Linked DNA regions of Homo sapiens. Changing the gene in region 4 together with the main gene of any one other region gives a genetic interaction. Each region holds a gene or a part of one and is shown on either strand. Other genes may lie near its edges.

Region 1 (3,000 bases), on a different chromosome or scaffold from region 4:
TATTATATATTTTATAATACATGTCACGTTCTATTGAGTGGCACAGGGTGAGACTCTTGAGTGTGTCTTTTTCTTGTATAAAGAGTTGAGAACTCACTTTGCAGAATATCACAAAGGAATCTGGAGGCTTGGGGCTATGTCTTTTTCACCACTGCTTCCTCCACAGTGCTATCACAATGCTTTGTACATAAATGCTTAATAAATGTTCACTAAATTTGAGAGGTTATACAGAATATACACAAAACCTCTTGATACAACATATAGATACTGTATAATATAGTTACATAGTTTCAAAATCAAGAATATTTTATTCAATGAGGTAGATAAAAATATAACTCAAAGGTAAGGCATTTTCAAAATGTCCACGTATTATGGAATTTAAAATGTATCCTAGTTTATGTTGTCAATGTTAAATGTTTTCATAACTCATATCTATTCAAGTATTTTTCAATGTTTAGAAAAAAGATTTTTATTTAGCCAAAATAACCACTAAAAAGATGTAAGGCAAAATACTTCATTTTATTTCTTAAATGCCTGAATATTTATAATCATATAAATTTTCATGCATTATATAATTTATGAGCTACTGTACTTTCACATTAATTAAAAATATTAGGAGACTCTAATTTAACCACTTCTGAAGAAATGAATGGCTGATCAGAAAATGTCAAATTACTATCATAAGCCCAAGATTTTATCATAATCATGAATAGCATTTAATCATGAATATCATTATTTAACTTTTAAAACCATACTTACAGTTTTAGATTAAAATCCCATATTGAGTCAACAAGACTTTACTCCAAATTATAGTCACATATGGAAGAAAGGTTTTAATTCAATATTTTATTATAGTCCACGTATAAAGATAATTTTCATGAGGGTTACATGATGGATAGCTAGCAAAAGAAATATGCTAGCACAGGGTGGTAACTGCCAACTAAGCATGCACTGAACCAACAGACTACTTCAGTAAGTCCTTGATTATTGCCAGCTTTTCTATAATGTTCAGGTTCTCAAAGGTCACTGAATTTTATAATTATCTCCAAACAATTTTCTTCATGGTCATTTAAGCTTTGTCTAAACAGCTGGGTGTGTTGCCAAGCGACATCACCATCTCCTCTGCTTAATTCTGCTTCCAAAATAACTTCAGTGGCACCAGAAAAATCAGCATAGGAGTGAAGACTGTTATCTGTTAGAGGGAAAAAAAAAATTAACATTTTGCTTTTGGTAATTTAAAGAGCACAGATCATTTTGAAATGTATTTTATATAGGCTGATGTATAAGTTAAAATAAACCCTTAAAAATAAATACAAATTATTCTTTATGGAAGAAATGCATCCTTTGAAACAAAGAAATGATTTTTTCCTTGCATTTGTATTTCACAACAGAAAACATCAGCCTTTCTGTTACAATGGGATCACACAGGGTTTATTAAATTTTTTTTTTTTTACTGAAATAGTATTAATAACTCTTAGGTACGAAAAAGAGCTACATCTCAAATAAGTACAATTAGTCTTCAGAGTGGTAAATATATATTTCGTGATTAATTCTCCAGGCAAATGCTTACCGCCTGTCAGTTCTACTTGTGCTGTATCAGATCGCAATTTCCATTCTACTGTTCCAGTCTGAAAAGTTTGACTACTTGTTCTAATAGAAATGCTATCTACTTTTAGGCCAACTGACCCACACTCAAACTTCCAGGAAATATAAGCAAAAGATGATCCTTCCTTTCGGGCCAAATATACCTATAAGGAGTAGGGATGGGGAGAAAGGAACTGTCAGAAAAAATGAAATAGTATAGAAAACAAACTTAGTGAAGAATATTACTGTCACAGGGTAGTATGTACAAGTGGTTATTTAAAAACTAACTTTTCCCTGTTGAAAAGGTTCTTACTGCTAACATTTTTTTTGGCAATTTTTCCCATGGCATCTTTTACCCTAGAAGACAGGTATTATTTGAATGCAGATGTCCCCAAAAAGTGCAATTCTAAAGGACTGCATTCTAACCAAATTTTGGTAAATCATCTTCTTTTATATTAAGAAGTTCAACTCTTTAAAATGAGTTTTATGACTAATCCTGCTGAAAATGAAGAATCCTTTTAAATGCAACTACTCTTTAATTTTTATAAGTCTGGATTTTCATATACGCTTTCCTAGTGTGACATGGTATGCTATAGTCTCTAAATCGAGAAAATACCTGAGCCACTGCTAACTAATGGTTTAAAAGGTGATATCCATGCTCACTTCTCTAAATAGCATGCTCCCTGTTCCTTCATCAACGCCCTTTAGCACATTAAATGTATACTATTTAAGGCATCTAAGCCTACTGGCTGCTTCCAGCTCATCCCCTCTCATACTTTTATCTACACTCCTCAAAACATTGCCATGAAAACTGACATCCACAGCCTTGGTCTTTCACAGGTCACTCTATTCAACCATGCTCAAACTCTTAAGACTCTGACGCTTCAGTCGTTCATCCCTTACGTCTGAATTCCCACAAAATTCTATGTATTTGTTTGAAATCTTGGAAAGAAACCCCTTCCTCACTAATACTGCACTTACTACTACAGTTTGAACTTTACACTTATCTTAATGCAATTGACTACTGTTGTACAATTCCAATTGCTCTGACCATATTTTTATTTTCAAGTGTATTATTTTAGACACAGGGTCTCACTCTGTCACCCAGGCTGGAATGCAGTGGTGCAATCATAGCTCACTGAAGCCTTGAACTCCTGGGTTCAAATGACCCTGTTGTCTCAGCCTCCAACTACCATGCCTGGCTAATTTAAAAAAATTTTTTAGAGGCAGGGTCTCACTATGTTGCCCAGGCTGGTCTTGAACGCCTGCCTCAGTCTCCTGAGTTGCTGAGATTGTAGGTGTGAGCTACCGTGCCTGGCTCTGATCAGATTAATGTTTTAAAATCCCACTCTCTTTATGTTATCTGCCTGGTCTGAAATGTACAGCAAGTACTTGGTTCTTACATTAAGTCTAATC
Region 2 (3,500 bases), on a different chromosome or scaffold from region 4:
TTCTCTTTTTTTTTTTGAGATGGCGTCTCACTCTGTCACCCAGGCTGGAGTGCAGTGGCGTGATCTCAGCTCACTGCAAGTTCCGCCTCCCAGGTTCACACATTCTCCTGCCTCAGCCTTCCGAGTAGCTGGGACTACAGGCACCTGCCACCACGCCCAGCTAATTTTTTGTATTTTTAGTAGAGACGGGGTTTCACCATGTTAGCCAGGATGGTCTCGATCTCCCGACCTCGTGATCTGCCCGCCTCAGCCTCCCAAAGTGCTGGGATTACAGGCGTGAGGCACCACGCCCGGCCGCTCTCTTCTATTCTCTTAAGGAATACAGATGAGAGCTTTCCCTTTTTTTCCAAGCCAGTGTAATTCTCTTTCTGTTCTTCTATACTAGGCTATTTTTATGTTATTAATTAACTAATGCTTCTCCAATTCTTCCTTGCCATTATCCTACCCTAAATGGAACAAGGCATGGCAGGAATTGAGGTGCCCAGAGAACTTCTCCTTTCTGGGTAGCACATCAGCCCTTACCCTCTAGATCAGCTACCTAATTCTACTCCCCACCCTTCATTTCCTGTACTTTAACTACTATGGCAAGTTGGTTCTGTGCAATTTGAGTTTTCATAGAGACAAATCCAATGTTAGCTATATGAAATAAGCATAAATTGTATTCAGGGATTTATCTTTTTGTTTTATTAATTTTAAAATTAATTAACCAGCCACATGTCTATCATAGAAATGACTCTGGAAAAGAAGTCAGCAAACTATAGCCCGCAGGCTGAATTCAGCTTGCTGCCTGCTTTCGTACTGTTTAGAGGCCAAAAGTGGTTTTCACATTTTCAAATGGTTGAAAAAAATCAAGAAAAAATTATCTTAGTACTTGGGAAAATTATAAGAAATTTATATTTTGGTGTTCATACATAAAATTTTATTGAGACACAGCCATGCTTATTTGTTTACTGCGTTCATGCTGTAAGGGCAGAGAAACTCTCATAGCCCAGAGAAGACTAAGGAGACTAAGGACTTAAATGCAGTGTAGTAGCTGGGGGCGGTGGCTCACACCTGTAATCCCACCATTTTGGGAGGCCAAGGTGGGTGGATCATGAGGTCAGGAGTTCGAGACCAACCTGGCCAACATGGTGAAACCCCATCTCTACTAAAAATACAAAAAGTTATCCGGGCATGGTGGCTGGCACCTGTAATCCCGGCTACTCAGGAGGCTGAGGCAGGAGAATCCTTTGAACTGGGGATATGGGGGTTGCAGTGAGCCAGTACTGCACCACTGCACTCCAGCCTGACAGCAGAACGAGACTACATCTCAAAAATTAAAAAATTAAAAAATTAAAATAAATGCAGTGTAGTATCCTGAATTGGATCCTGAAACAGAAAAAGGACTTAGTGGAAAAACTGGTGAAATCTAAGTAAGTCTGGAGTTTAGGTAGTAATAATATACTGATTTTCTTTTTTAGTTTTGCAAATGTATCATGGTAATTATGGATGGTAGGTTAACAGGATTTTAACATTAGGGAAAACTGAGTAAGGGGTGATTACTTTTCTGTAAATCTAGAATTATTTCAGAATAAGAAGTTTATTTTAAAAACAATCAGGAGGCCCACTAACCAAATCACAAACATTACATCTAGAAAAGCATCTTATTTTATTAATATTAATATTGTCCATTCATAGAAAGGTACTGTCAATAGTACATTAAAGATACAACATCTTTGTTAACTATTTTCAATGGAAAAGTATTTTTGAACAGTAGCTTGTTGACTTTTAATTTTGTTCAATATTTTTCTTATCCATATCTGGAAAAGAGTGAAGAGTACTATAGCAATAGCCTTATGAGATAGCATTATAGTGAAGATGCACAGACATGCAAGCTGGCTGCTCAGGTTGTACCTCATGGATTTTCTCACCCTTGGTGTTTATATTGACATGTTCAAAAATTTCAGTTTATCATTTCATTCATCAATGATTAAACTATCAGAATTGATTATAGCTTACCAACTTACAGGAAATGTGGGATTTGGAGTCAGAAAGACTGTGGTTAGAATTCCTTCTTCACAATTCTCTAGTTTTGTGACTTTGGACAAACTGCTTTTTTTTTTTTTTTTTTTTCTGAGACAGAGTCTTGCTTTGTCACCCAGGCTGGAGTACAGTGGCCCGATCTCGGCTCACTGCAACCTCTGCCTCCCGGGTTCAAGCGATTCTCCTGCCTCAGCCTTCTGAGTAGCTGGGATTACAAGCATGCGCCACCATGCCCGACTAATTTTTGTATTTTTAGTAGAGACGGGGTTTCGCCATGTTGGTCCGGCTGATTTTGAACTCCTGACTTCATGATCCACCCGCCTCTGCCTCCCAAAGTGGTGGGATTACAGGCATGAACCACCGTGCCTGGCCCAAACTACTTAACTTTTTCTATTTAATGGAGTGTTGCACTGTTGCCCAGGCTGGAGTGCAGTGGTGCCATCTTGGCTCACTGCAAGCTCCGCCTCCCGGGTTTACGCCATTCTCCTGCCTCAGGCTCCCAAGTAACTAGGACTACAGGCACCCGCCACCACACCCGGCTAATTTTTTGTATTTTTTAGTAGAGTCGGGGTTTTACTGTGTTAGCCAGGATGGTCTCTATCTCCTGACCTCGTGATCCGCCCACCTCGGCCTCCCGAAGTGCTGGGATTACAGGCATGAGCCGCCGTGCCTGGCCCAAACTGCTTAAGTTTTTAATACCTCAGTTTTGTTTTTCTCAAAACTATTAATTTTATTTCTACTAGAGGACAGCTATGAAGGCAATTTGGAAACTATGAGACACGATGCAAATATTTATTGTTGATTTTACTTGCCAGGACACTGGAATACCTACACCTAATTGTCAGAGTACTCTTTCTCCTTTATTGTGACACACTCTTAAGATTTGGCTGTTGTGGCCGGGTACGGTGGCTCACGCCTGTAATCCCAGCACTTTGGGAGGCCGAGGTTGGCAGATGACGAGGTCAGGAGATCGAGACCATCCTGGCTAACACAGTGAAACCCCGTCTCTACTAAAAATACAAAAAATTAGCCGGGTGTGGTGGTGGGCACCTGTAGTCCCAGTTACTCGGGAGGCTAAGGCAGGAGAATGGCATGAACCTGGGAGGCGGAGCTTGGAGTGAGCCGAGATCGCGCCACTGCACTCCAGCCTGGGCGACAAAGCAAGACTCCGTCTCAGAAATAAATAATAATAAAAAAAAATATTTGGCTCTTGTTTTTCTAGATTCCATATAGATTTTTCGTACTATTTTTATAACATTACTAAGAATTATATTTCATACTGCATTAGAGTTTACAAAGCATTTATAGATGCATTAAATGTTGACTAGAGGAACCTGTATATGGCATCCCAAGCTTGTGTACTTGAATCCTTGCTGCTCCCAATTTTCCATGGAGGCAAACTTAATACTGGTCCACCAAGAGAATTGAGTTAGGCCTAACCATGTACCTGAAGATTCACATTTCCAAGAAGATGCTAG
Region 3 (3,500 bases), on a different chromosome or scaffold from region 4:
GAGAGACTCAGCACATCTTTCTTTGGGGAGGGCGAGGCAGCCATGCTGTCAGGGGGGCCAGAGGCCAAGGGATCCTTGGAGTCGCTGGACGGAGCCCTCCTCCGGAGGCAGATACCAGGGCTGGGCGGGGTCCGAGGACCTTGGCTCTCGGGGGGGTCTATGGTGATACTAGGCGGGCTGAGTTTTTTCTTGGGCCGGCTCCCAGGCCCCCCAAGAGGCTGGCCCCCAAGGTTAGAGGGGTCTGTGCCCAGGTGGGGTTGGGAGCCGCTGTCCAGGCAGCTGACGGCGATAGAGTGTCTCCTCTGCTCATCCAGCCAGGACGTAGGCCGGCGCTGGCAGCTCTGGGCCTCCACGCTGTAGCACTTCTTCAGGTCCCGTGGGGATGGGGGCTCCTCCTGGCCGCCAGGGGGCAGGAGGTCTCCTGAAATCCAGCTCAGCTCCGTGTCCAACTCTAAGCTGCTTCTGGTCTCTGGAGGGCCCTTGCCCCAGTTGGGTTCTGGGCCTGGGCAAGGGGCTGGCGGGGTCATGTGCTTGGAGATCTTGCTGTGGCTGCGGGAGTGCTGCTGTGCCTGGGTACTTGACTGGCCCCAGAAAGAGTAGGCCCGGGCCAGGGGCGGGGAGGGCCCACTCACCTCTGCCAGCAGGTCTTCCCGGCTGCCCAGACCCTGAACGTCCAAGGAGTCAGTCCTTATTGCTGCCTATATGGGGTGGGGGAGGGCTCAGCCCAGCAGTCTCCTCTCCAGCATGGACTAGCCCTCCTGTCAAGCTGGCTGTGCCCCCTGCCCACCACCACCAGGCACAGCAGGACTATCCTAAGCAGAGGTCCTGGTAGCCGCTCTTACTAGTAGATAGGGGTCATTGCAGCCTGACCTCTGTTGTCCACCATGCCTCCTCTCTCCCCACTAAACCCTGTCTTCCCTCCCCCATGCTCTGGTCTCCCCTAAGCCTGCAAGAATCGCTCTCTCTGCAGCCCCTGCCTCCTGGGATATGAGAGAAGCCAGGCCATCTCTGCTCACTGAGCTGGCTCCTTCACGCCTCCCCGCCTCTGCCTAGACTTCCCCTTTGGCTCTGAATACCCTTCCTGATTGGCAAGAATCCCTCGATTTTACGGACTCAGGTTCTCTGTGACACAGTGTGTGACAGTCTCTGTCCCCAAGTAAAACCGACCCCTTCCCCTTCTGTGTCCCTGCTGCCCTCCACACATAGGTGTCTGGCAGCTGTGAGCTGAGGCTGCAATGATCTGATGGCAGGCATGTCTCCACTATTAGACTGTGAGCTTCAGGGGGCAGGGGCTGTGTCGCCAGTGCCTGGCACACAGAGGCTGCTTAGTGACTATTTGCAGAATGAATAAGGACTGTGCCTGCTCCCCCAAGCATGTGGGATTGAGATTCTCATGTGTCCACGCTCATGCCTCAGGACACACACATGGCATGGGCTGTGGCCTTATCACAGGTGGGCTCTGGGGCCGGGCGCGGTGGCTCACGCCTGTAATCCCGGCACTTTGGGTGGCCGAGGCGGCCAGATCATCTGAGGTTGGGAGCTCGAGCTCAGCCTGACCAACATGGAGAAACCCCATCTCTACTAAAAATACAAAATTATCCAGGCATGGTGGCGCATGTCTGTAATCCCAGCTACTCGGGAGGCTGATGCAGGAGAATCACTTGAACCCAGGAGGCGGAGGTTGCGGGGAGCCAAGATTGTGCCATTGCACTCCAGCCTGGGCAACAAGAGCGAAACTCAAAAAAAAAAAAAAAAAAAAGAATCTGGGCTCTGGAAGGTGGGCCCTAGGCTTGGCCAAAAGTGAAGACACTTAAAACCTGCCTTGTGCCCCATAGCTCAGTCCAAAGTGGGGAGAAGAATTGGGAGGCAGCTCTGGTTGGTGAGGAAGGAAAGACCAGAGACTGGGGTTCTACCTCCGACCAGATAGGCATGACCCTGGGCAAGCACTACCCCTTCTGGTCTCCAGGCCTCCTCAGTGGAACAAGGAACTGGGTGCAAATTTCAAGAAGGCACAGACCACTTCTGCTTTGCCCAGTACTGTGTCCCTGGTATCTGCAACTGAGCCTGGCACATCACTGGCACACAATAAATATTTGCTGGAAGAATGAAAGTGTCAACACAGGTCATCACCAGCAGCAGAGGGTCCAGCCCCCAGGCCTGTGCCTGCCTTTCCACATCTGCTCACCTGGCGCCTGAGTGGCCTCTGAGCCAAAGGGGAGCGTCCTGGTGGGGGCAGTTTGGGGATGGTGCCCCAGGTTGGGGCGCTGTGGGGCTGGAGCAGATGAGGTGCATCTTTGGGAAGCTGCAGGATGTAGCTGGTATCTGCTGGCTGGGAGTGAACGGACAAGACGGAGCCTGTGGAGGGAGGGAAGCGGGGGAGGGGTGGGGGGAGAGAATGGAGCTGGAGGGTTCAGGGGAGCAGGTTCTCACCTGAGCCCTCCCTTCCACTCTCTCCCCCTCATCAGGGCCTCTACCCTTACCCCCTGGACTCAAAGCCATTCCCCCAGGCTGGAGGCTCCCCTGAGGTCAGAGATACCTCTTTGGCTGCCTCAGTTCCCCATCCCCTCAGATCAGGACTGGCTTAGGCCAGGATGGAATCTCCCTGTGTGAGCCAAATTGGCCTGCTCTAGCCCTGGTACCTGACTGAGCTTTGGGGAGCCCCCAGCCCCTGTGTCCCAGGGGCCCCTCGGCAGTGCTCCCATGCCGACACATGTAGCTGTCATTGGGCAGAGAGTGCGTTCGGCTGACCCCAGACTTCCGCACAGTCAGTAAGTCTGGTCCTGGCAGCTCCGTGGGGTGGGGCTGCATCTGCAAAAGGAACAGGGGAGGGAGGTGGAGGAAGAGGGTGTGCGTGGGTTTGGTAACTGAGGCAGCGCTGACAACAGAAAGCAGCAGCGCCCCCCGCCCAGCCCTCACCCCCGTGCCCTCCCAGGACAAGGTAGAGATGGGCATGAGCATGGCTGGGGAGAGGGGCAGACACATGGATGAGCCCTCCACACGCGGGGAGGAAGCAGGTAGGAGGGGGTCTGGGCAGCCGGGAGAGTCTGCAGGCCCTGCCCCCCACCCCCTGCAAAACTGCACACATTGTATCACCTTTAAGCTCCCACTGTGGTGGTGGAGGGGCGGGGAGGTATCCAGAGAAGGGAGAGCAGCCCCCAGCCCCCAGCCCTGCAGGTGGCTCACAAGCTGATTCTAAAGGCCCCATTTAGAGGCTCTGAAGGGAGTCCCGGTGTCCACAGGGATGGGCTGGGGCCCTGACCCAGAGCAGCTCAGGGGAGGATTAAAAGCTAACAGCAGGCCAGGCACAGTGGCTGGTGGCTCATGCCTGTAATCCCAGCACTTTGGGAGGCCAAGGTGGGCAGATCGCTTGAGCTCAGGAGTTTGAGACCAGCCTGGGCAACATGGCAAAACCCCATTTCTAAAAAAAAAAAAAAAAAAAAAAAAAAAAAAATTAGCTGGATATGGTGGCGTGGCACCTGTAATCCCAGCTACTCCAGAGG
Region 4 (3,500 bases):
AACAATAGTTCAATTTTTTTTTTTTTTGAGATGGAGTCTCGCTCTGTTGCCCAGGCTGGAGAGCAGTGGCGCGATCTCAGCTCACTGCAAGCTCCGCCTCCCGGGTTCACGCCATTCTCCTGCCTCAGCCTCCCAAGTAGCTGGGACTACAGGCACCTGCCACCACGCCCGGCTAATTTTTTGTACTTTATTAGTAGAGACAGGGTTTCACCGTATTAGCCAGGATGGTCTCGATGTCCTGACCTCGTTATCCGCCTGCCTCAGCCTCCCAAAATGCTGGGATTACAGGGGTGAGCCACCATGCCCGGCCAATTTTTTTTTGAGATGGAGTTTCACTCATCTCCCAGGCTGGAGTGCAATGGCATGATCTCGGCTCACTGCAACCTCCGCCTCCCAGGTTCAAGCCATTCTGCCTCAGCCTCGTGAGTAGCTGGGATTACAGGCGCCCACCACCATGCCTGGCTATTTTTTTGTATTTTTAGTAGAGATGGGGTTTTGCCATGCTGGGCAGGCTGGTCTTGAACTTCTGACCTCAGGTGATCCACCTGCCTCAGCCTCCCAAAGTGCTAGGATTACAGGAGTGAGCCACCGCACCCGGCCACAATAGCTCAATTTCAAAGGGTGTAATTCTTTGAAGCAGAGCCCTGCTGTGTCCTTTAAGTACTGCCTTCCTCAAAGCCACCTCCAAAGTCAAGTTGTATTTCCATTTAAGGGCCCTGTCTGTGGCAAAAGGCATAGATGAAATGCTGAACTGTACCACTTTTTGTCATGCTAAATCCCAACCAGACTGGAACCCTCAGCATAGCACCCAGAGGTGGCTTTGCATTATTTCTTGAGGGGCCCAATGCAAACTTTGCACTTCCATCATTCTGAAGTTCTACCAAATCCACCTCTTTATAGTCAATCGCCCTATTCTACCTTGGTTCATCAACAACAACTCAGTAAGATTTAGTGGCTAAAGAAGTTGTTAAACCTAATCACATGAGCCTTCTGTACTCTAGCACCAGAGTCAACACGTAGGACCACATAAAACAGTAGGAGAAATGGCAAACCACAAGCTTACCATTTGCTATTTCTAACACCAAAGATCCAAGACATATGTATCATTAAGAATCCTTTTGGAAACCAAAAAGTTGACTGATAGAAGTTAAACCACCTACTCTGAACACTTATTTTGCACATCAAAATAAGCAGTCTTTAGCCCTGGCAACACACTGAGACCCCATCTCTATTTAAAAAAAAAAAAAAAAGGCCGGGCATGGTGGATCATGCCTGTAATCCCAGCACTTTCAGAGGCCAAGGCAGGCAGCTCACTGGAGGTCAGGATTTTGAGACCAGCCTGGCTAACATGGTGAAACCCAGTCTAAAAATATAAAAATTAGCAGGGCATGGTGGCGGGTGCCTGTAACACCAGCTACTTGGGAGGCTGAGGCAGGACAATTGGTTGAACCTGGAAAGCAGAGGTGGCAGTGAGCTGAAAGTGTGCCATTACACTCCAGCTTGGGCAACAGAGTGAGACAGTCTCTAAATAAATAAATAAATATAAAAAATAAAAAAAATTAGCTGGGTGTGGTGGTGTGTGCCTGTAGTCCCAACTACTCAGAAGGCTGAGGTGGGAGGATCACTTGAGCCTGGGAGGTCGAGGCTGCAGTGAACTGTGGTCATGCCACTGCAATTCAGCCTGGGGAACAGAGCAGGGTCCTGTCTCAAAAGACCCCAAAATAAAACACCCCACAAAACCCCTTTTTTCGACAGTCTCGCTCTGTCGCCCAGGCTGGAGTGTGGTGGCGCAGTCTTGGCTCACTGCAACCTCTTCCTCCTGGGTTCAAGTGATTCTCCTGCCTCAGCCTCCCGATAGCCGGGATTACAGGCGTGCGCCACCACACCCAGCTAATTTTTGTATTTTTAGTACAGACGGGGTTTCACCATGTTGATCAGGCTGGTCTTGATTTCTGACCTCATGATCTGCCCGCCTTGGCCTCCCAAAGTGCTAGGATTACAGGCATGAGCCGCCACGCCCGGCCAAAAACCTGTCTTTTATAAAGCTCATTACATATGATGTTTAGTCACGTGAAATTTCAGACCCATCTAAGGTATGTAAGAATTAACACTTCATACACACACACCCATTTTCCCCCCCTGGTTTAGGTCCAGAAGCATCTCAATAATCTGAGTGGGTCTATAATACATTTTCTTGCACTGACACCCTCTCTGCTTCCCAGGCCTTACCTGTTTTGGATAGAGTTGGCAGCAACATGCATGGCGACAGCAGTTTCTTGGGTTTTCCGGTTCATGCCCCCTGGTGGGGGACACATCCCTGACCCAACCTGAGGTGGCATATTGGCCATGTTAGGGCCATAAGGCCGGTTGCCCATGGAGGCGTGACTCATCCTCCCTGGAGGGAGTGTGCCATAAGGTGGGATGCCAGGCTGTCCATGCATTTGACCTCCGGCACCCATGGGGTTTATGCCTCCAGCCATGCCTGCACTGGGGTAGTTGGCATTGGGCAAGGCATTATAGTTTGGCTGCCTGGGGTAGCCACCTGGGAGGGGAGGAAGACAAGACTTGGTTAGTCACTCACTAGCAACTCACTAATATCTCTCAACTCTAGAACACCAAACAATGTCATTCAATATTTTGGTTAGGAAAGAGATCAACTTCATGGTAGCCTTTATCGCCATGAGAAAAAGGGGGGGATTCCAGAAGCATGTAAAGGCAGGTCAGAGCAAGGCTGGCTTTGCTGCCACACAGGCATTTCAACTTCCAGAAGAAGATAACTTCCTTTCTATTTCCATGCTCTGTGTAAGATTCTCAACTTTTGATCAGCCTAGGGCTGCAATTTTGAGCAAAGATCTATTCCATTATGACTTATTCACTAAAAATAATTAATAAAAAAATAATAACCAAGAGCTACCATGTATAAATTGTCTGTGCTCAATGGTGGAGTAAACACCTAATCTCCATTTTTATAAATGAAACAGAGGCTCAGTGAAATTGAAAGACTTTCTCATGGTGACAGAATAAGTGGAGACAAATGGAATCTTGCCTTGCCCTACTTCAGGGCCTGGGCTGGGTGGATTAAAGGCAAAGGACAGCCCTTCTCTCACAAGGTTACAAGCTAGATGGCAACATATCAGACAAGGAACTGTTTTCTCCTCTCACCCGTATCTACTCCTAACTGGGTAGTATACTGACCTTGTGGGCCATACTGACCCCCCTGGGGACCATAGCTCCCCATGGAGTTCTGCTGGTAGGAGCCCATGCCTGTGTGTATCTGTCCTCCGGAAGGCTGACGCGGAGATAAGGCTGAGCCGGGCTGGGGGGAACTGTACTGGGGCATCTGGGGGTTCCTCTGCATATAACCTATTTGTGGGTAGCATCCATATAGTTATTAGCTTTATACAATGCGAACAAATGCTCTCCATCCTTATCCTGGGACTTTACCATCTACATTTTCTTTAGCAGCCACTTGCATGGAGTCTCTATCTGATTTTCTATAT
Region 5 (3,500 bases), on a different chromosome or scaffold from region 4:
ACCTCAGCCTCCTGAGTACCTGGGACTACAGGCACGAACCACCACACCTGGTTAATTTTTTGTATTATCAGTAGAGGCAGGGTTTTGCAGTGTTGCCCAGGCTGGTCTCGAACTCCTGGGCTCTCTGCCTGCCTCAGCCTCCCAAAGTGCAGGGCTTACAAGTGTGAGCCACCACACTTGGCCCACACTGACTCTTACTTGAAATATTTTGAGACTAATAAATTTTTGTTTTCTTAAATAAAATATAATAGACTTTTTTTGATCAAAAGATTAATTGGGCCAGGTGCAGTGGCTTGCGTCCGTAATCCCAGCACTTGGGAATTCCAGGTGGGAGGTTCATTTGAGCCCAGGATTTGGAGACCAGCTTGGGCAACATGATGAGACCCTGTCTCAAAACAAAACAAAACAAAAAAATACATCAGTTGTGGTGGCATGCACGTGTAGTCCCAGCTACTTGGCTGAGGCAGGGTCCTTGGAGGATCACTTGAGCCTAGGAGGTCGAGGCTGCGGTGAACTGTGTTGGCACCATTGCACTCCAGCCTGGGCAACAGAGCGAGACCTTGTCTCAAAACAAAACGAAACAAAACAAAACAAAAAACAAAAACAAAAAAAAACCAGATTAATTGTTTATGACATAGAAATTAAAATTTCTTAATTAGGAGTCAGTGTTTTTTTTGTTTTTTGTTTTTTGTTTTTTTTTTTTGAGATGGAGTCTCGCTCTTCTGCCCAAGCTGGAGTGCAGTGGTGTGACCTCGGCCTCCCAAGTTGAAGTGATTCTTCTACCCCAGCCTCTTGAGTAGCTGGGATTACAGGCACCCGCCACCACGCTCTGCTAATTTTTGTTATTTTTAGTAGAGCTGGGGTTTCACCATGTTGGCCAGGCTGGGCTTGAACTCCTGACCTCAGGTGATCCGCCAGCCTCAGCCTCCCAAAGTACTGGGATTACAGGCATGAGCCACTGTGCCTGGCCTACATGCATTTTCATGTTTGGTAATTTGGTAGGATGATTTGGAAAAAAAATCTAATCAGAATTAAATATTTTATAGTTTATTAAAAATTGGACTGAGACTGGGGGCTGTGGCTCACACCTGTAATCCCAGCACCTTGGGAGACCGAGGCCGGTGGATCACCTGAGGTCAGGAGTTCGAGACCAGCCTGGCCAATGTGGTGAAACTTCTGCTCTACTAAAAATGCAAAAATTAGCCGGGTGTGGTGGCACATGACTGTAGTCCCAGCTACTCAGGAGACTGAGGCAGGAGAATCACTCAAACCTGGGAGGTGGAGGTTGTAGTGAGCTGAGATCGGGCCATTGCACTCCAGCCTAGGCTACAGAGCGAAAGTGTCTCAAAAAATAAATACATAAATAGAGACAGGGTCTTACTGTGTTGCCCAGACTGGTCTCAAATTTCTGGACTCAAAGTAGTCCTCTAACCTCGTCCTCCCAAAGTACTGGGATTACAGTCATGAGCCACTGCACCCGGCCTATATTCACTGTAGTTATTAAAAATATAGGCCGGGCATGGTGTCTCACGCCTGTAATCCCAGCACTTTGGGAGGCCAAGGCGGGCAGATCACCTGAGGTCGGGAGTTTGAGACCAGCCTGGCCAACATGGTGCAACCCCGTCTCTACCAAAAATACAAAAATTAGCCAGGCGTGGTGGCGTGCGCCTGTAATCCCAGCTACCCAGGAGGCTGAGGCAGGAGAATCGCTGGAACCCGGTGGGCAGAGGCTGCAAGTGAGCCGAGATTACGCCACTGCACTCCAGCCTAGGTGACAGAGCAAGACTCTCTCAAAAAAAAAAAAATAAATATTTACCTGAGGCCAGGTGTAGTGGCTCACGCCTATAATCCCAGCACTTTGGGAGACCGAGGCAGGCGGATCATCTGAGGTTGGGAGTTCGAGACCAGCCTGGCCAACATGGAGAAACCCCATCTCTACTAAAAATACAAAATTAGCCAGATGTGGTGACGCATGCCTGTAATCCCAGGTACTCGGTAGGCTAAGGGAGGAGAATTGCTTGAACCCGGGAGGCGGAGGTTGTGCTGAGCTGAGATCGCGCCATTTTACTTCAGCCTGGGCAACAAGATCAAAACTCGGTTTAAAAAAAAGAAAAAATATATATATATTTACATCTATATATTTACATATATGTTTACATATATATGTATATTTACCTGAAATGTTGATTTGGTTCCATCTGAACAGCCTTTTTCAAGGACATTGTCTTTTTCAGCTATAGAGTTTGGCATTGTTTAGTTAATCTGTAAAATACAGATTGTAGTTATTATTTTTGAGACAGTCTCACTGGGTCACCCAGGCTGGAGTGCGTGGCACGCTCTTGGCTTGCTGCAACCTCTGTCTCCTGGGTTCAAGCAATTTTCCTGCCTCAGCCTCCTGAGTAGCTGGAATTACAGGTGTGTGCCACTCTGCCTGGGTAGTTTTTGTATTTTTTTAGTAGAGATGGAGTTTGGCCATGTTGGCCAGGCTCGTCTCAAACTCCTGACCTCAAGTGGTCCACCCGCCGCGGCCTCCCAAAGTTCTGAGATTATGGGTGTGATCCTCCGTGCACAGCCGGTCATTATTTTTTTATGTTGCTTTACCGTGTACAAAAAAAGTGCAGTACATTATATGACTCCTTTAGGAAACCTGTGCTTATTAAAGATTATGAAGTTACCTTGCGGATAAGTACAATGTATTTTGTCAGTTTTGTAAGATACACTTGAAGTATTTTTTTTTTTCTCGTTTGAGACGGAGTCTCGCTTTGTCACCCAGGCTTGAGTGCAGTGGCGCACTTTCGGCTCACTGCAACCTCCGCCTCCCGGATTCAAGCCATTCTCCTGCCTCAGCCTCCCAAGCAGCTGGGATTATAGGCATGCACCACCATGCCTGGCTCATTTTTGTATTTTTAGTAGAGACGGGGTTTCACTATGTTGGCCAGGCTGGTCTTGAACTCCTGACCTCAAGTGATCTGTCCACCTTGCCCTCCTAAAGTGCTGGGATTACAGGCATGAGTCACTGCATCCGGCCAGAGTTTTAATTTTTAATTTTTGTGGGTACATAGCAGGTCTATTTCAAAGTTTATTTTATTTTATATTTTTTGAGAGTGAGTCTCGCTCTGTCACCCAGGCTGGAGTGCACCCAGGCTGGAGTGCGGTGGCACGATCGCGATCTGGGTTCGCTACAGCCTGCGCCTCCTGGGTTCAAGCGATTCTCCTCCCTCAGCCGCCTGAGTAGCTGGGACTACAGGCAAGTGCCACCATGCACGGCTAGTTTTTGTATTTTTAGTAGAGACGGGGTTTCACTGCTTTAGTCAGGTTGGTCTTGATCTCCTGACCTCGTGATTCGCCCGCCTCGGCCTCCCAAAGTGCTGGGATTCCAGGTGTGAGCCACCACCGCGCCTGGCCCTTGAATACCGTTTATTAAAAATTTACGGGGCTGGGCGCGGTGGCTCACACCTGTAATCCCAGCACTTTGGGAGGCCGAGGCAGGCGAATCACGA
Region 6 (3,500 bases), on a different chromosome or scaffold from region 4:
ATCACAGGTGGAACAGATTCAATATGAGAAAATGTAGTGGGAGTTGGAGAATACAGTTTTTCGAGGGCAGAGGGGGCTGGCTTGCCCTTTTTACTATTATGTACACTACTACTACGTTAAGATAACAAGCATGGTTTTTATGTTTCTTAAAACTATCTTCTAAAATATAACAGTAAAACAGAGTAAAAAGATACCTTAAGAGAAGCATGGAATGACCCACAACCCTCTTAATAAAGGAAGAAAATCACAATACTTAAGGAGAGACAACTGCATCAAATATTACCATGCGCTAAAATTAATCTAACAAACTATGTACACCTCTAGTTAATTGTTTTCCCAAACTTTAGGGGGAAAGATGTGAAACTCTCTAATTCAGCATAAACAGATCAATCCCATTTTTGCCTGAGCTTCCAAAGTTCTGACAGCCTAACTATTCCACTGTGTCAGGAACAGTGTGCAGTCTTAAAGTACTGCATCCACACAACCTGAACTTTCCTGCAATTCATGTTTTTGTTTTTAATTGTCCTAAACACTATCAAGGGAAAAAACAACATTGGGGTTTCAGGAAAGAACTACGGTTTGCCAGAGAGAACAAGATCTCTACAGGTATTATAAAGTCTCAATGATTCAACGTCTATAAAGTTTCTTTATATGCCACTATTTCTTAGTACCTTACCAGGTTACTTTGTTTTAGATGACCTGTACTATGGCCCAAAAATGTTAACTTTCAACAAGACTCATGGCCAGGCGCAGTGGCTCACACCTGTAATCCCAACACTTTGGGAGGCCAAGGTGGGCGGATCACCTGAGGTTGGGAGTTCGAGACCAGCCTGACCAACACGGTGAAACCCTGTCTCTAAAAAATTAGCCGGCGTGGTGGCACATGCCTGTAATCCCAGCTACTCGGGAGGCTGAGGCAGGAGAATCGCTTGAACCCAGAGGTAGAGGTCGCGGTGAGCCAATATCGCGCCAATGCACTCCAGCCTGGGCCACAAGAGCGAAACTCCGTCTCCAAAAAAAAAAAAAAAAGAAAAAAAGGATTCATGACCTAATTACTTCTACCTGCTTAGCCATCTGCGTGATCCATCTTTCCATCATGGTTTCAAGCAAGTCTTATTATTCTGTTGCTTTTTTTCCTACAGCAGTATTCAATGCTGTCACACAGGTTAACTCTCCCAGCTCTATTTGGAAGTCTGTATTAGACAGCAACAAGCAACAACAGACTTATCACTGACTACATTTCCCGGGTTTCTCCAGCAATACTAAAATCCCTTAGCCAAGAGTGCCTTCTTATGACAGGTCTGGCCTGGGGAGATAGAGATCCACCTGCCCACTGGCTGCACTCTGCTGGTCCTGCCTCTTAAAGTGCAAGGGACCTGAGGGACGACAGGCAGAAGGTCAAGTCTTACATCCATCCTCTCCCACCATCTACAGCAAACCAAGTAAGAAAGGTGTCAAGGGAGGTCCCAGGTCCCATGAGAACTAACCCAACAATTTCCCACCTTACTTGCCTGTCATGGACCATTAGAAATATAACAGAATTCTTAAGACACAAGAACTTCCTCTTTGACTTCAGAAGAGGAAAAAAACACGTACAACACATAAGTGTAAAGCGATAAATTCTAATCAACACTGCAGAAAGATATGTCATTTTAACACCAATAAGCTCAAACTAACTTTCTAAAAACATTTTCTAGGATAGGTTAGCTGACAGAAATCGCCCATATTAAGTTCTTAGCTTACATTCTATTAAACATTTCTAGAGCAAGCTGTTTACTGTAAGACAAAAAACAGTATATCTGGACCTAAACCTAACCGTGAAAAATGGGTCCACAGGCACCCTCTTAACCATTTTTCCAAAGAAATATGTTTAAACGGCTTTACCATGCAGAGCTATGGCTTCCCGGAAGGGTTGCAAATCAGTCTCTACAGATGAGCTAGTTTCCGTTGAAGTAGCTCGGTTAGGGGACACTACAGTCAGTCTTGGGGGAGCTCTAGAGTTTCGTGGTGGAGGAACTTTTCCACACAGGAAGCTGATCAAATCTTCTCGACGAATAGTTCTTCTGCGTTTTTTAACCCAAGCCAACACATCCTTATTGCGTCGCTGATAGCCAATCTGAATTCCAATATCAAAACTTCGTTGATGGGTATCCACGCTTTCTGTTAGAAAAAAAGAAAAAGAAAACATGTATCATGACCATTAGAGCCCGTATTCCCTTCTAAAGAAAACCATTTTACAATTTAACCAAAGTGAATACCATGATGTGGCCTCTGAGCCCATCAGTAATATAAACTGAAATGATTTCAGTCATAATGAAAATGTTATATGTAACATTTAATCTTAATGGTCTAAATTCAGTGTTTACTTATCACAGTCCTGGAGCTTGGCTTGTTAAAAAAAAAAATTTAACAGAAACAGAGAGATTAGGTATCTTTAATGAAATTACCTAAAATAACTTGCATCACATCATTCAACAGATGTCTAAATATTGCACATGCCTCAGGCCACGCTCATCTGCATTTACCACGTCATTGTGGAGATACATTCCTACTGACAGATTCAGCACCAAGAATGAGGAACAAGCTGAAGGCAGCAGCAAATGTTTTAGAAGGAAAAATTAATTCTGACTGATGGCTCAACACTAAAACCAAATAGCATGGTGGAAAACAAAAAGCTTTATTCATTTCCCTGGGTATACTCATTTTGCTTCCAGTTCTCAACAGCTTCCTGTAACTCAACCATTCCCAACAGATCTCCTAGACTAAATTCTCTGCATATACTCCACCTGGGTTTTGGTAAAATGATCTCTACCTTTTAGTGGTTTCATTTAGTTGAAAAAAAATTTGAAAATTTAAGTGACTATTATTTAGTTTTAATTGAGCTGCTGTGCCAGCAGAACATCACCAGTATGTCTTTAATGGCATTAACCAACATCGTTACTTTATCCTTGAACTTTCCGTAAAAGCAACAATACTGTGTACATTTCTCTATTACTTTTCCCGGCTTTGATTATTTCGTTTTATTTTATTTTTTGAGACGGAGTCTCTCTGTTGCCCAGGCTGTAGTGCGATGGCTCGATCTCAGCTCACTGCAACCTCCGCCTCCAGGGTTCTCCTGCTTCAGCCTCCTGAGTAGCTGGGATTACAGGCGCACGCCACCATGCCTGGCTAATTTTTCTATTTTTAGTAGAGACCGGGTTTCACCATATTGGTCAGGCTGGTCTTCAACTCCTGACCTTGTGATCCGCCTGCCTCAGCCTCCCAAAGTGCTGGGGATTACAGGCGTGAGCCACTGCAACCGGCGGCTTTAATTTCTTGTCTGCTACATCTACAGCAGACTCTCAAAGGATGGGCAATAGTCAAACAATGTAAAGCTATGTTCCAGAAAAAAAAAAAAAAAATCATCCAGACATCACAGAGGATGCCAAGCTGAATTTGCACTATTAAAGAAAATGGCAAGAGGGAAGCACAACAACCAGAACTTTATAATAAGGCCTACT
Region 7 (3,362 bases), about 21 Mb from region 4:
AAGGGGGAGGGCGTGGCGCGATTCTCCACGCTGCTTGGCGCCTGGGAACGCCGCTATCCTGGGAAGGGTAGGCGGGGGCGGGCTGGGGGGAGATGCCCTGGCTTGATAGAGCTGGGGGGCGCACCCCACCCTGAGTCCCTACACAGAAGCCGGTTTGTTCATTCCTCTGCCACAGGGCTCAGCTGCAGAATTTTTGCGACTTCCCTGTCACCCTCAGAAGCAATGGGGGCTGCATTGTTCAGAATATAATTTTACAAGCCCCAAAAACTAAAGCCATGAGGGCCCATGGGAGGTGTCTAGGTTTGAACCCAGGGACTTCCTGGAGGTCAGCCTTCCTGTCCATCACAGCAGCTACAGTTCAGCCTCCTGGAGTCCAACCAGGGGGATGGCCCCAGAGCCTTGCTGTAGGCCTAGCCCATCCTGGGGCAAGTGCTCCAGGCGCCTCCTCCACTGGGTCCGCCGTAGTCTGAATCATAGATTGGGGTGCGGGCCCTGGATCTCTCGAAGTGTGGCCTGGAGCTCTTCCCAGAATGTCAGTGGTCTCCTGCCACCACCACCTGTGCGTGGAGCTGAGAGCAGGCTCATGGGAGTAGACTTCTAGTGCTTCTCCATGGGGACAGGGTCTACCACCAAAGCCACCCAGCCTGGAAGCCCAGGGCTGTAAGGAAGGGAGAGGCAGCCGTGTTCACCCCACCTGCCTCCTGTGGGAAGTCCGCGTTGGATCCTAGCAGTGTCAGAGAACACAGGACCCAGGCTGCACCCTCACCAGGACCCCTCCCAATCCCAAGGCCCCAGCAAGGATGAGGCTGGCTGTGGCCCCGCGGGTGGGCTGCATGCTTTAATGGGACACAGGCTGCTGCATGGCCCCCGCGGGCTCAGCTTGTGCCTGGCTTTGAGCAGCCACAGGCAGAAAATTGCTGCATTGTCCCGACATTAGGGCAACTAATGCGGCGTTGCGGGTATAACCAGAGCATGAAGTGCATAAAGAGGCGTCGCCTTGGCATCTTCATCAGTCCCGAGGGAGCCCAGAGCCCTGTCATAGTCAGTGAGGCAGCCTGTGGCCAGCTGGCCCATGTACCTCCCCAGTAGGTGACCCCTGGAATGCTTGCACTCCAGGGTATCAAGGACTTGGCAAGTGGGACTGGAGAACTTACGGGGATTGGGACAGGATGGGCATGGAGGGGGTGGGCATGGCAGGGGTCCTCAGACTGGGGAAGTGGTGGAGGCCAGAGAGATAAGGAAAAGACAGATAAAGGGGAGGGGGGGGTCCCTCGGGAGACAGGGGGGGTCCTGAAGGTGAGAGGAAGCCTAGGCTATGGGAGGGGGCTGAGGGAAGGAGGTGGGGAGCTTCCCAGTGCGTCCTCCCTCGGTCCCCTCCTCCTCAAGGTTTCTAGAGTCCAGAGGGCCTCATTGACATGTAAACGAGGGTCCCTATAAAGGCGGCGCTGCCTCGCACTGGTGCATGGACTGCAACATGGGCACGGAGCCTGCTGCCCGGGGCAGCCTCCCCGGCAACTTCCGAAAGGTCTGGGGTCTTGAGGGACTAGGGGCAGGCACCCTTCCCCGGGAGGTGTGGGGGGGTGCCGAGGGCAGGAGGGTGGCAGTCCTGCACTCTAAAGGCTGTTCATCTGCAGATTTCCAAGCCGCTGATGGAGAAAAAGCGCCGGGCACGCATCAATGTGTCACTGGAGCAGCTCAAGTCGCTGCTGGAGAAACACTACTCGCACCAGGTGAGACTCAGGCGGGGTGGGGGTGGGTGGGTGATACGATCCCAACCTCCCTCTCTCCACCTCGGGAGGCCGGTCTAATAGACCTTTCCATGGTCGGGTAGATCCGGAAGCGCAAATTGGAGAAGGCCGACATCCTGGAGTTGAGCGTGAAGTACATGAGAAGCCTTCAGAACTCCTTGCAAGGTATAGGGGAGGGCTGGAGGGAGGAGGGGGAGGCTTGTGGGATCAGAGCCAGGGATGCACAAGGCCAAATAAAGAGGGATACCTCAAGGACCGCTTGACCCCGGGCTTTTGAGACCAGCCTGGGCAACATGGCAAGACAGCAAATATAAAGAGGACAACTCGGAGGCAGGTGCAGTTGGTGAGGAGGGGGCCCCAGCTCGCTAGGGGGCGAGGGAGGAGCAGTAAAGCCCGGGCTGGCTGTGCGATTGCAATCTGGGTGGTAGGTCTGGACCCCGGGGGAGACGTTCGGGTCGTCTGACCTCCGCCCTCCTCTTCCCTTCCTCAACACGCTTCCTCCCTCCTTTCCCCTCCACCTCCACTCCCCTCTCCTCCCTCCCTTCCTCCCCTCCCCTCCCTCCCCCTTCCCCTCCTCTCCCTCCCCCTCCCCTTCCCCTTCCCTCTCTTCCCCTCCCTGTTTCTCGCGTCCGCTCTTCCCCACAGGGCTCTGGCCTGTGCCCAGGGGAGCCGAGCAACCGTCGGGCTTCCGCAGCTGCCTGCCCGGCGTGAGCCAGCTCCTTCGGCGCGGAGATGAGGTCGGCAGCGGCCTGCGCTGCCCCCTGGTGCCCGAGAGCGCCGCCGGCAGCACCATGGACAGCGCCGGGTTGGGCCAGGAGGCGCCCGCGCTGTTCCGCCCTTGCACCCCTGCCGTCTGGGCTCCTGCTCCGGCCGCCGGCGGCCCGCGGTCCCCACCACCCCTGCTCCTCCTCCCCGAAAGTCTCCCTGGCTCGTCCGCCAGCGTCCCCCCGCCGCAGCCAGCGTCGAGTCGCTGCGCCGAGAGTCCCGGGCTGGGCCTGCGCGTGTGGCGGCCCTGGGGAAGCCCCGGGGATGACCTGAACTGAAGGCGCTCCCTATTTGGTCTCGCGACACAGGGACTATTTTCAGCACGCCCACAGTGACTGCCAGGACCCCCCAGTCGTCCGTTCTGGTCGTGGGGCGGGGGTGGCTTGGAGAGGGCCGCGCACCCCGCAAGCGCAGGGAAATACCCCCAGCCCTGCCGGACTGGGTCTGCGCGTCTGGGCATAATCCACCCCCACTCTAGCTCCACCTACACACGCCGGACCGCTCGCTCTCCGCCCATCCTCCGGAGGGGCTGGGAGGGGGTGTCCTGGGCTGCGCCCCTTTCCCAGGGACCCCTGGCGGGCAACCCGCCCGCCCCCACCCCCGCCCGGTTGCCGCGCAGCGGTGGGAATGTCGCAGTTGGCAACAGCGCAGAGCTGACCCCTCGCAGCGAGGAGAATCGCTGCCCCGCCCCGGACCATTCAGCGGACCGCGGGCGCCCGGTTCCCACCGGCACAAAGCGCGCCTGGCCCCGCCCCGCCGGCAAGGGGCCCCCAGCCTCCCCCAACCCGGGATCCTCTTGACTTCCAAGGACCTCCTTCGCAAGCGGTGCTGCCCACCGGGCTGGCGCAT

The links.
Region 1: changes in ARID1A (region 4) and NGLY1 together harm fitness more than expected from each alone (negative genetic interaction), as found in Homo sapiens cells (one large-scale study listed by BioGRID).
Region 2: changes in ARID1A (region 4) and GOLM2 together harm fitness more than expected from each alone (negative genetic interaction), as found in Homo sapiens cells (one large-scale study listed by BioGRID).
Region 3: changes in ARID1A (region 4) and CACNA1G together harm fitness more than expected from each alone (negative genetic interaction), as found in Homo sapiens cells (one large-scale study listed by BioGRID).
Region 5: changes in ARID1A (region 4) and SMARCC1 together harm fitness more than expected from each alone (negative genetic interaction), as found in Homo sapiens cells (one large-scale study listed by BioGRID).
Region 6: changes in ARID1A (region 4) and HAPSTR1 together harm fitness more than expected from each alone (negative genetic interaction), as found in Homo sapiens cells (one large-scale study listed by BioGRID).
Region 7: changes in ARID1A (region 4) and HES3 together harm fitness more than expected from each alone (negative genetic interaction), as found in Homo sapiens cells (one large-scale study listed by BioGRID).

Annotation. Positions count from the first base shown.
Region 1 is NC_000003.12:25,718,444-25,721,443, forward strand, and holds the end of NGLY1 (peptide-N(4)-(N-acetyl-beta-glucosaminyl)asparagine amidase), read right to left. Parts: intron 1,749-3,000; coding exon 1,571-1,748; intron 1,193-1,570; coding exon 1,017-1,192; 3' UTR 501-1,016; downstream 1-500. UniProt on the Homo sapiens protein: Specifically deglycosylates the denatured form of N-linked glycoproteins in the cytoplasm and assists their proteasome-mediated degradation. Cleaves the beta-aspartyl-glucosamine (GlcNAc) of the glycan and the amide side chain of Asn, converting Asn to Asp.
Region 2 is NC_000015.10:44,333,719-44,337,218, forward strand, and holds part of GOLM2 (protein GOLM2), read left to right. Parts: intron 1-3,500.
Region 3 is NC_000017.11:50,623,215-50,626,714, reverse strand, and holds part of CACNA1G (voltage-dependent T-type calcium channel subunit alpha-1G), read right to left. Parts: intron 2,809-3,500; coding exon 2,640-2,808; intron 2,356-2,639; coding exon 2,186-2,355; intron 699-2,185; coding exon 1-698.
Region 4 is NC_000001.11:26,762,015-26,765,514, reverse strand, and holds part of ARID1A (AT-rich interactive domain-containing protein 1A), read right to left. Parts: intron 3,364-3,500; coding exon 3,196-3,363; intron 2,543-3,195; coding exon 2,230-2,542; intron 1-2,229. UniProt on the Homo sapiens protein: Involved in transcriptional activation and repression of select genes by chromatin remodeling (alteration of DNA-nucleosome topology).
Region 5 is NC_000003.12:47,775,394-47,778,893, reverse strand, and holds part of SMARCC1 (SWI/SNF complex subunit SMARCC1), read left to right. Parts: intron 1-3,500. UniProt on the Homo sapiens protein: Involved in transcriptional activation and repression of select genes by chromatin remodeling (alteration of DNA-nucleosome topology).
Region 6 is NC_000016.10:9,101,644-9,105,143, reverse strand, and holds part of HAPSTR1 (HUWE1-associated protein modifying stress responses 1), read right to left. Parts: intron 2,161-3,500; coding exon 1,885-2,160; exon of another isoform or gene 1-1,884. UniProt on the Homo sapiens protein: Acts as a central player within a network of stress response pathways promoting cellular adaptability. The E3 ligase HUWE1 assists HAPSTR1 in controlling stress signaling and in turn, HUWE1 feeds back to promote the degradation of HAPSTR1.
Region 7 is NC_000001.11:6,242,717-6,246,078, forward strand, and holds HES3 (transcription factor HES-3), read left to right. Parts: upstream 1-1,462; 5' UTR 1,463-1,525; intron 1,526-1,634; 5' UTR 1,635-1,649; coding exon 1,650-1,730; intron 1,731-1,831; coding exon 1,832-1,913; intron 1,914-2,393; coding exon 2,394-2,791; 3' UTR 2,792-2,862; downstream 2,863-3,362. UniProt on the Homo sapiens protein: Transcriptional repressor of genes that require a bHLH protein for their transcription.